2 separate regions of the Homo sapiens genome follow, and region 2 is reported to be linked to region 1. The links are microRNA targets in miRTarBase. Many come from high-throughput screens and were not tested one by one. Region 1 holds a microRNA gene; the other region holds the end of a gene's coding sequence.
The links. The annotated mature microRNA hsa-miR-4770 reads UGAGAUGACACUGUAGCU and lies in region 1 at 2,200-2,217, shown strand. An mRNA with a match to its seed (bases 2 to 7 or 8) in the 3' UTR can be bound and repressed. Matches are read on the target gene's strand: a 7mer-m8 pairs with bases 2 to 8, a 7mer-A1 pairs with bases 2 to 7 and ends in A, and an 8mer does both.

Region 2: miRTarBase lists ENO4 as a target of hsa-miR-4770. Seed matches in the 3' UTR shown: 8mer at 1,042-1,049.

Annotation. Positions count from the first base shown.
Region 1 is chrX:6,381,816-6,386,123 of GRCh38, reverse strand. It overlaps MIR4770 (microRNA 4770), which reads left to right and starts at 2,161; the gene lies at 2,161-2,218.
Region 2 is chr10:116,881,133-116,884,132 of GRCh38, forward strand. ENO4 (enolase 4) reads left to right here. Exons shown (of 14, transcript NM_001242699.2): 14 at 383-1,469. The coding sequence ends at 537. It overlaps SHTN1 (shootin 1), which reads right to left. Exons shown (of 17, transcript NM_001127211.3): 17 at 345-3,000. Among named protein-coding and RNA genes, the nearest start is that of ENO4, 33 kb to the left of the region's middle.

The sequences.
Region 1 (4,308 bases):
AATTGCCTTTCCAATGATCAGCCAAACATCGTATTGGTCAGTACATATATGATTTTAAAATGTAGAATTAGAGAGAGCAAAATAGAGAGAGAGAAAGAAAGCTAACTATAAGAGATATTTAGATAATGCATGTTTTGCAGTGAGTTTGACATTATAATTGAATGACTTCAGACATTACAATGGCATCTACTAAAATGTTTTCCACAGGCTGAGATTGCTGCCTTGCCCTTGGTCTACCCCCAAGTTTCTCAACCATCCCACTGTCAGAGGCGTTTGAACCAGAGCAACTCCACTATCTTGAATAGGGGCTGGGGAAAGTAAGGCTGAGATCTGCTGGGCTGCATTCCCAGAAGGTTAGGCATTCTTAGTCACAGGATGAGATAGGAGGACGGCAGAAGATACAAGTCATAAAGACCTTGCTGACAAAACTGGTTGCAGTAAACAAGCCGGCCAAAACTCACCAAAACCAAGATGGCAACAAAAGTGACCTCTGGTCATCCTCACTGCTCATTATATGCTAATTATAATGTATTAGCATGCTAAAAGACACTCCCGCCAGCGCCATGACAGTTTACAAATGCCATGGCAACATCCAGAAGTTACACTACATGGTCTGAGAAAGGGAGGAACCCTCAGCTCCAGGAACAGCCCACCCCTTTCCTGGAAATCTCATGAATGGTCCACCCCTTGTTTGGCATATAATGAAGGAGTAATAATAAGTATCCTCGGTGGAGCAGCTCAGTGGAGTAACCATTCTTTTTTTTTTTTTTTTTAACTTTCTTAATCAACTTGCTTTCACTTTACTCTATGGACTCACCTCAAATTCTTTTTTGTGCGAGATCCAAGAACCCTCTCTTGGGGTCTGGATAGAGACCCCTTTCTGGTAACACCACTATTGACATTTGGAAGGAGATATTTCTTATGATGGGAAGCTGGCATGTGCCCTGTAGTATCGCTGGGCCTCTGCCTGCTAGATGCCAGGAACAACCTCCCAGCGAGGACAAATAAAAAACGTGTCCAGATATTGCTAAACATCCCTAGAGGACCCAGTTGCCTCTGATTTCCCTTGAGTAGCTAAGCATAGCCAGAACTTACATTTGTATAAATGAATGAAAGAAAGAATAAGTCATTTTCCTAACAATGGTTACTTTACATTTGAAACACTAGAGCCCTTTCCCCACTTCTCTTTATGAACACAGAGATCGCCTGGAAAAAGTCTATGCACTTAACCCTTCTACTAGGTGGCTTTGGGTATAGAAGAAAAAAGCCCCACACCCCGGAGCAATCAACATTTAGGAAAGTGAAATCACAGGAGAAAGAGGGTGTCATACAAGTCGCTACTAATTTCCTTGACAAACGCTGTTTTGAGGAGCACTGTTAACTCTCTGAAATCTCTGTTTTCTCCCTCCTGAAAGATTTTTAGAGAGGATTCCTTTCAAAATTGGGTTCCGGGACTCCGTGTTTCCAGTGGAATGCTGTCACCATGAGACCCCGTGACGCACTAGCCCAGGAATGCCGGCAATAGCCAAGCAGAGCCCTGTGCCTGTTCTCTTCCTGGCACAGAGGCACACAAAACCCAAGCAGGCCCACCCAAGTCAGATCCTGGGCTGTGGGAAAGCCTTAGTGAATGAGCTCATTGAAGTGGAGAGATGAAAATGAGGGAGCTCTGAAACTGGCAGGGCCTGCAGAGGATTCCTAGGGGCAATTCCTCTGCCCAGAAAACAAGGGAAGGGGCCTAAAGCCCAAACAAGGACCCTCCTGATTAGTAGGGAGACAGAAAGCTCCACTCTCTTCCCCTCGCCCCCGCCCCCCACCCCATAAAACAAAGCTATTCGGGATGCTTCAATTGCCAAGTAGTGCAACAAATCACTTTGCCAAACGTGAACTCTGAAGTCAGGGGTGCTCAGCTCCGGCAAATGCCACTCTATGTCTGCTCATCCATGCAAGACGCTTTGCAATGAGAATGTTTACACTAGCCCTCCGTAAAGCACACAGTTACAACCCATCAGGAGGTATGCAATCAGCAACCAGGATGCACTGTCTGCTCTGGGCTTAGAGGCTATGAGCTAGGGCCATTTGCATAACTGAGTCAATGAAGGTGGTGAAAAGGGTTTTGATTCCTATCTTGCATGTGGAATCTCATTCTCTCTTAGAGATAATGAGTTATGGGGTCATCTATCCTTCCCTTGGAAAATGATCTGAGATGACACTGTAGCTCCCCATCCTCTGGGATCATTGATGTCTGTAAGATTTTATAGGAAGCAATTGAGTTGAGTGTACCCCCTTTCCCCTGTCCTCAATCTAAGTGATAATCTCTGGCACCCCAAAGGGTGTCAGACTGCTTTGTTGATCTTAATTCTGGAATCCCTCTAATCCCTAACTGGGCTTCCCACAATACCAGTGCCCTGGCTTAAAGGAGGTTTGCAGTATGCACACATCTCTGAGGATGGCTCAACTCTCCTGGCCCCCAAGGAATTCCAGGTATTCCATCCCTCTTAATACCTCCTGAAGTCTCTTAACTTCCACCAGACATCTTGTAATTCAGCCTAGATGACCAGATTTGCGTTTGCACCTGTCAATCAGCCTTTCGAGTTCTTGATGGAGAGAATGGAAAACATTCCGTTCTTACCAGACAATTCCTCTCCATGCCACAGAGCTGGCAGAGCACCTAATAGTGATGCTGGGTAAAGTGGCTCTCCAGGGGCACTGGGCTGCTACAGTTTTGAGGACAAGCACCCACACACAGCCAGTGGGCCCCAGGGCAAGCGCACTGTGAGGCGTGAGACTCTACCCAGTAAAGCTGGAGCCTTCAACCCCATAACTCCACCAACATTTGAAAACTCCAATTGCCTCTGGAAGATACTGCCGCTTTCTTCTCCAGGAAAGCATCTTCTGTCTGCTGAGAGTAATATTGTGCGTGGAAAGTCCCTTACCACGTAGTGTTCAGACACTGGAGAAAGGGAGAGGGAGTCATCACTCTGAGAGAATCCACGAGAGATCTGTGAAGCTGATGGAATTTCAGGGCGCAGGGTGTCCTATTCATACAGTAGACCTGAGTGTGTTCTGCTCACATTCCAAAACAACAGGACAGGGGAGGTAAGGACCTATATAGAGAGCCTCTGCCTATATAAATCAGCTTTCCTTCCAAACCATAAAGCCAAGGAACACTAGAGCTGTGAATCCTGGGAAGCATTTTGATTTTGTGTTCTTTCACATCTGTCTCATTAACATACGAAATAAAGTTAGTTAGTTGCAGGTTGTTTCTTTTTAAAAAAAAGAACAAGACAGGTGTAAAATCTATAAACACCTGCTAGATCAGTAACTGCCTCTCAACAAGACCAGCTGGCACATCAACATCTCCAGGAGATCATATCTTAAATGTAAAGTGAACAGTTAATGTTCCTGAACTACCTCTTATTTTAAAGCCATAGGAAACCTTTTGCGGGGGGGTGGGGGGCATCTCCCCAAACTCCTGCGCATGACAAGAGCTCTGCACAAAAGATAGGAAGACCCGGTCACCCTAGGCCACCTCAGCAAGGCGGTTGGTTATGTTCTGCTGAGAAGCCATGGAGCGATTATGTGAAGAAAGGCTGTTCTCTTTACCGGTGCCAAGAAAAAGATTAGATAAGAAAAGGTCACTGGGGCAAGGAGGGGTGAGTGGTTGTTTAATTTTTAACAAACATTGCGCACTCCATAGCATGGCTGTTTCCCCCACTGTATGATGTTTCAAACATTAATTGAATAAAGGGATGGTCTAAGCAAAGGTAAAAGTAGCCCTAAACAGAATGTTCCTTTGTGATCGGCGAGAATAGTTTGGGACTACATAGTCATGGGGCCTCAGAAGGACAGAAAGTCTACAACCAAGTTTGTGTTTTTTAAATGATTAGATCCAATCTGTGGGTATTTGATAAGTTGCCAAAACATTTCTTTAAATGTGTCGGCTGGGTGCGGTGGCTCACGCCTGTAATCCCAGCACTTTGGGAGGCTGAGGTGGGAGGATCACTGGAGCCCAGGAGTTCGAGACCAGCCTATGCAACATAGGGAGACTCCCATCTCTACAAAAAAATAACAAAAAATCGCCAAGCGCCTATAGTCCCAGCTGCTTGGGAGGCTGAGCTGGGAGGGTCGCTTGGACTCAGATCAAGGCTGCAGTGAGTTATGATCGCACCACTGCACTCCAGCTTGGGTGACAGAGCAAGATCTTGTCTCAAAAAAAAAAAAAAAGGACAGATGTTGCAGGGATGAAGAGTAGGATGAGGTGGGTGGAGGACATCTTTGGGGAAATGACAGGGAGCCGGTGAGACAGAA
Region 2 (3,000 bases), not on the chromosome of region 1:
ACTGGAATGGTCCTCGCCTGCCATCATTTCCCTGGGAGCAGTCAGCTGGCAGTGGCTTGTATCATGCCTAATACTGGCCTTTCCCCCAGTTTATCACCTTCCTCTTAACCCTTTCCGCTAAGCCTCTGCCCAAAGTCCATGATGCGTCATCAGATGTTCCAGAATGTTGAATGAGAGTGCAAGTAAAATCGAACAGAACATCTGTATGGCACAATTAACATATAACCAAAGATACGCCCAGTTGTAAATGGTTCTGGAGTCCTTTCCGATGGTGATGTGACACCTTTGGACTAGTACTGAAGATGATCTCCTTCAACTTATGTAGTATATAAAAACTGGCACCATTGGATTAGACAGTAAACTTTATTGTTACTTTAAATAGGTTTCAAAGAAGAACACACTTTTTTTTACTTTAATGAGGAAGCTGAAAAGGCTGCGGAGGCACTTGAGGCTGCTGCGGCTAGGGAGCCGCTGGTGCCCACCTTCCCCACACAAGGTGTAGAGGAATCAGCCGAAACAGGAGCATCCTCTGGATAGGGCTGTACACACCCCAGGTTCCAGCCACACCATCAGTATTAGTAGACCGGGAGGTCTGAAGTACGGCGCCGTGTCTCCACATGGAGTTTCCTCTTCAACTTCACCAACTCTTGTGGTTTTTATTCTTCTAATTCCACTGTTTGGTAAATTACATATATGATGTTTTTGCCTGAAATTCTGTGAACTTCGTTTTGCAGCCACCACACTTCCATGTGGATTTTGTTTGTCTATTAGCTCTCCTGTCCATTTTTCAGGGACACGCTCCAGTAAAAGAGGCCAATATTTTTGTTGCCAACTCCACACTCAGTCAAACACCCCATCCTTTACCAATCAGAATATCTCTGAGAACAAAAACCTAATGACCCTAGAAGCTCTCTGTGCTGGGAACAGATGTCCATCTTCTGTGTTTATTCTACATGTCTGTGCTGAAAAGCACTGACACATTTTTGTAACCAACCTCACGTAGAAGTGTGAGAGCATCACCATTTTTTGTAAGAGCCAATTTCATCTCACTTTCCTACCCTTGATTCCTTTTTTCCTAATTCCCTCTCCTTTTTAAATTTTAGTTTTTCTTGTATTATTTTTATCTTTGCGAGTCTTCTTAGATCCTTTTTGGAGTAAGAATGAGTATAAATGAATAAGCACATCAGTAAATGAATTAATATTCTCAAGGTTATTAAATGCCCAGTTATTCATACCACAGCATTTAAAAAGCAATCCGCAAGTGATAAAAAAAAAAAAAAAAAATGATGTGACATATCCATTGCCTGAATTGCTCTTTTGTAAGCCAGTGTTGGGATTATAGCAGAGGAGTAGCAGAAATAAATATATTCAGACACAAACATATAGATATAATAATATCCAACCACTTTATATGATTTAGGGTCTCGTTAAAATGGTTACCATTTGCTTCTCCTAAAAATTATATAAATTGCTATGTACTGACCTGTAGGGGAGTTGGCTAAGTTTAGACTTCTGACAAATTCTATAATTTTTATTAAGCACACTGAGGACCTCTCCTTTTAAAGAGTACTAACAAGGGACCTTAATTTCCTCATAACAGAGCCAACTCTTTATTCTCAAAGCTATGATTTGAAACTGGCTCAGGCGCAGACTCTCTCAGAGCATGCAGGAGACTTGGTTGGTATCACTCTAAGTTGGAAGAACTGTGTCACAGTTTGTGGCTGCTACTGCCTCTCCTGATGCTTAGCAACAAGCAACGGGTAGGAGAAACTGGAAGGAAAATTCATTTGAAAGGCAGAACAAACATGACTGGGTGTTCACATACCCTTTGAAAAATACACACACACACACACACACACACACACACATCATGAGACTATGCCCTGGAACAGTGATATAAATTATAATTAAATTACTAAAACCAGAGCAAAAATGTACAATGAATAACAAAATAACTAAATTAAATTAACCAAAGAGGTGATTTATTACAATAACCAGGTCAGCAGTGTGACTTCAACACAGAGCAGTTTACTCACCTATCCTCGAGACTGCACTCACCAATGGATAATTAGCATTTTAATTTAAATTTCTTAGGGTGCTAGGCACTCTTTCTACTTATACTTTCTCTCTCTTGTGTTATATAACATTTAATATGAAATATATTTATATAACTGTATATATAATATTATCTGTGAAAGAAATGAAAGAAACAGTCACATACCAAATTAAAATGACTGTGGGATAGGGACATGTTAGTGCTTGGAAGAGAAACTTCAAACCACTCCAATCCTTATGCAGGGACTGCTTGATGAGTCTTTGAAGGTCAGTGATAATGACAGATGGTTATCCATTCTCGACAACTTACTGGTATATAAGCTAATGTTGTTCCACAACGAGTGTAACTGAACAGGTAGAGTATGCATTTAGAAAAATAATCCAGACTTGAAGGCTGTGATACAGACTATCATTTACTGAACACACAACCAAAAACTGGTCTGGAAAGACAATTAAAAATAATTGTTACCTGTACTACTCCATTTCCAGCAGTTTACCATTAACAAAGAAGGTAAGGAAGGAGCAATTATTGGTGAGTAGTTAGAGCCAAAGCATCCATCCTCCGTACTCAGGGCAAACTATGCTGGGTGCTAATAGCCCTGTTGATGCCTGCCAGTCAGAACTTCCATGGGACTGTTCAGCTGCTGAAACTGCTGTGGGTGAGGACTTTGTTTGAGACCAGCTCACATACAAAAGGGTGCAAGTGCTTTAATTAAAATCTTATTCTTCCAGAAAAAAAAAGAGACATTTTCTTTTTCTTTAATAGCAATGGCACAAAGTACCTCTATCTCTGTTCCTCACTCGGGCTATAAAATGCATCAACATTCGTTTTTCTTAAAGAAAAAAAATCCTCTATAGCGCACAAGACTTAATTTATCTTTCCCAAACAGAAGGAAGCATAAATAACCTTTTAGAGAAATCAAAAACATAAAGATGCAGTCTTTT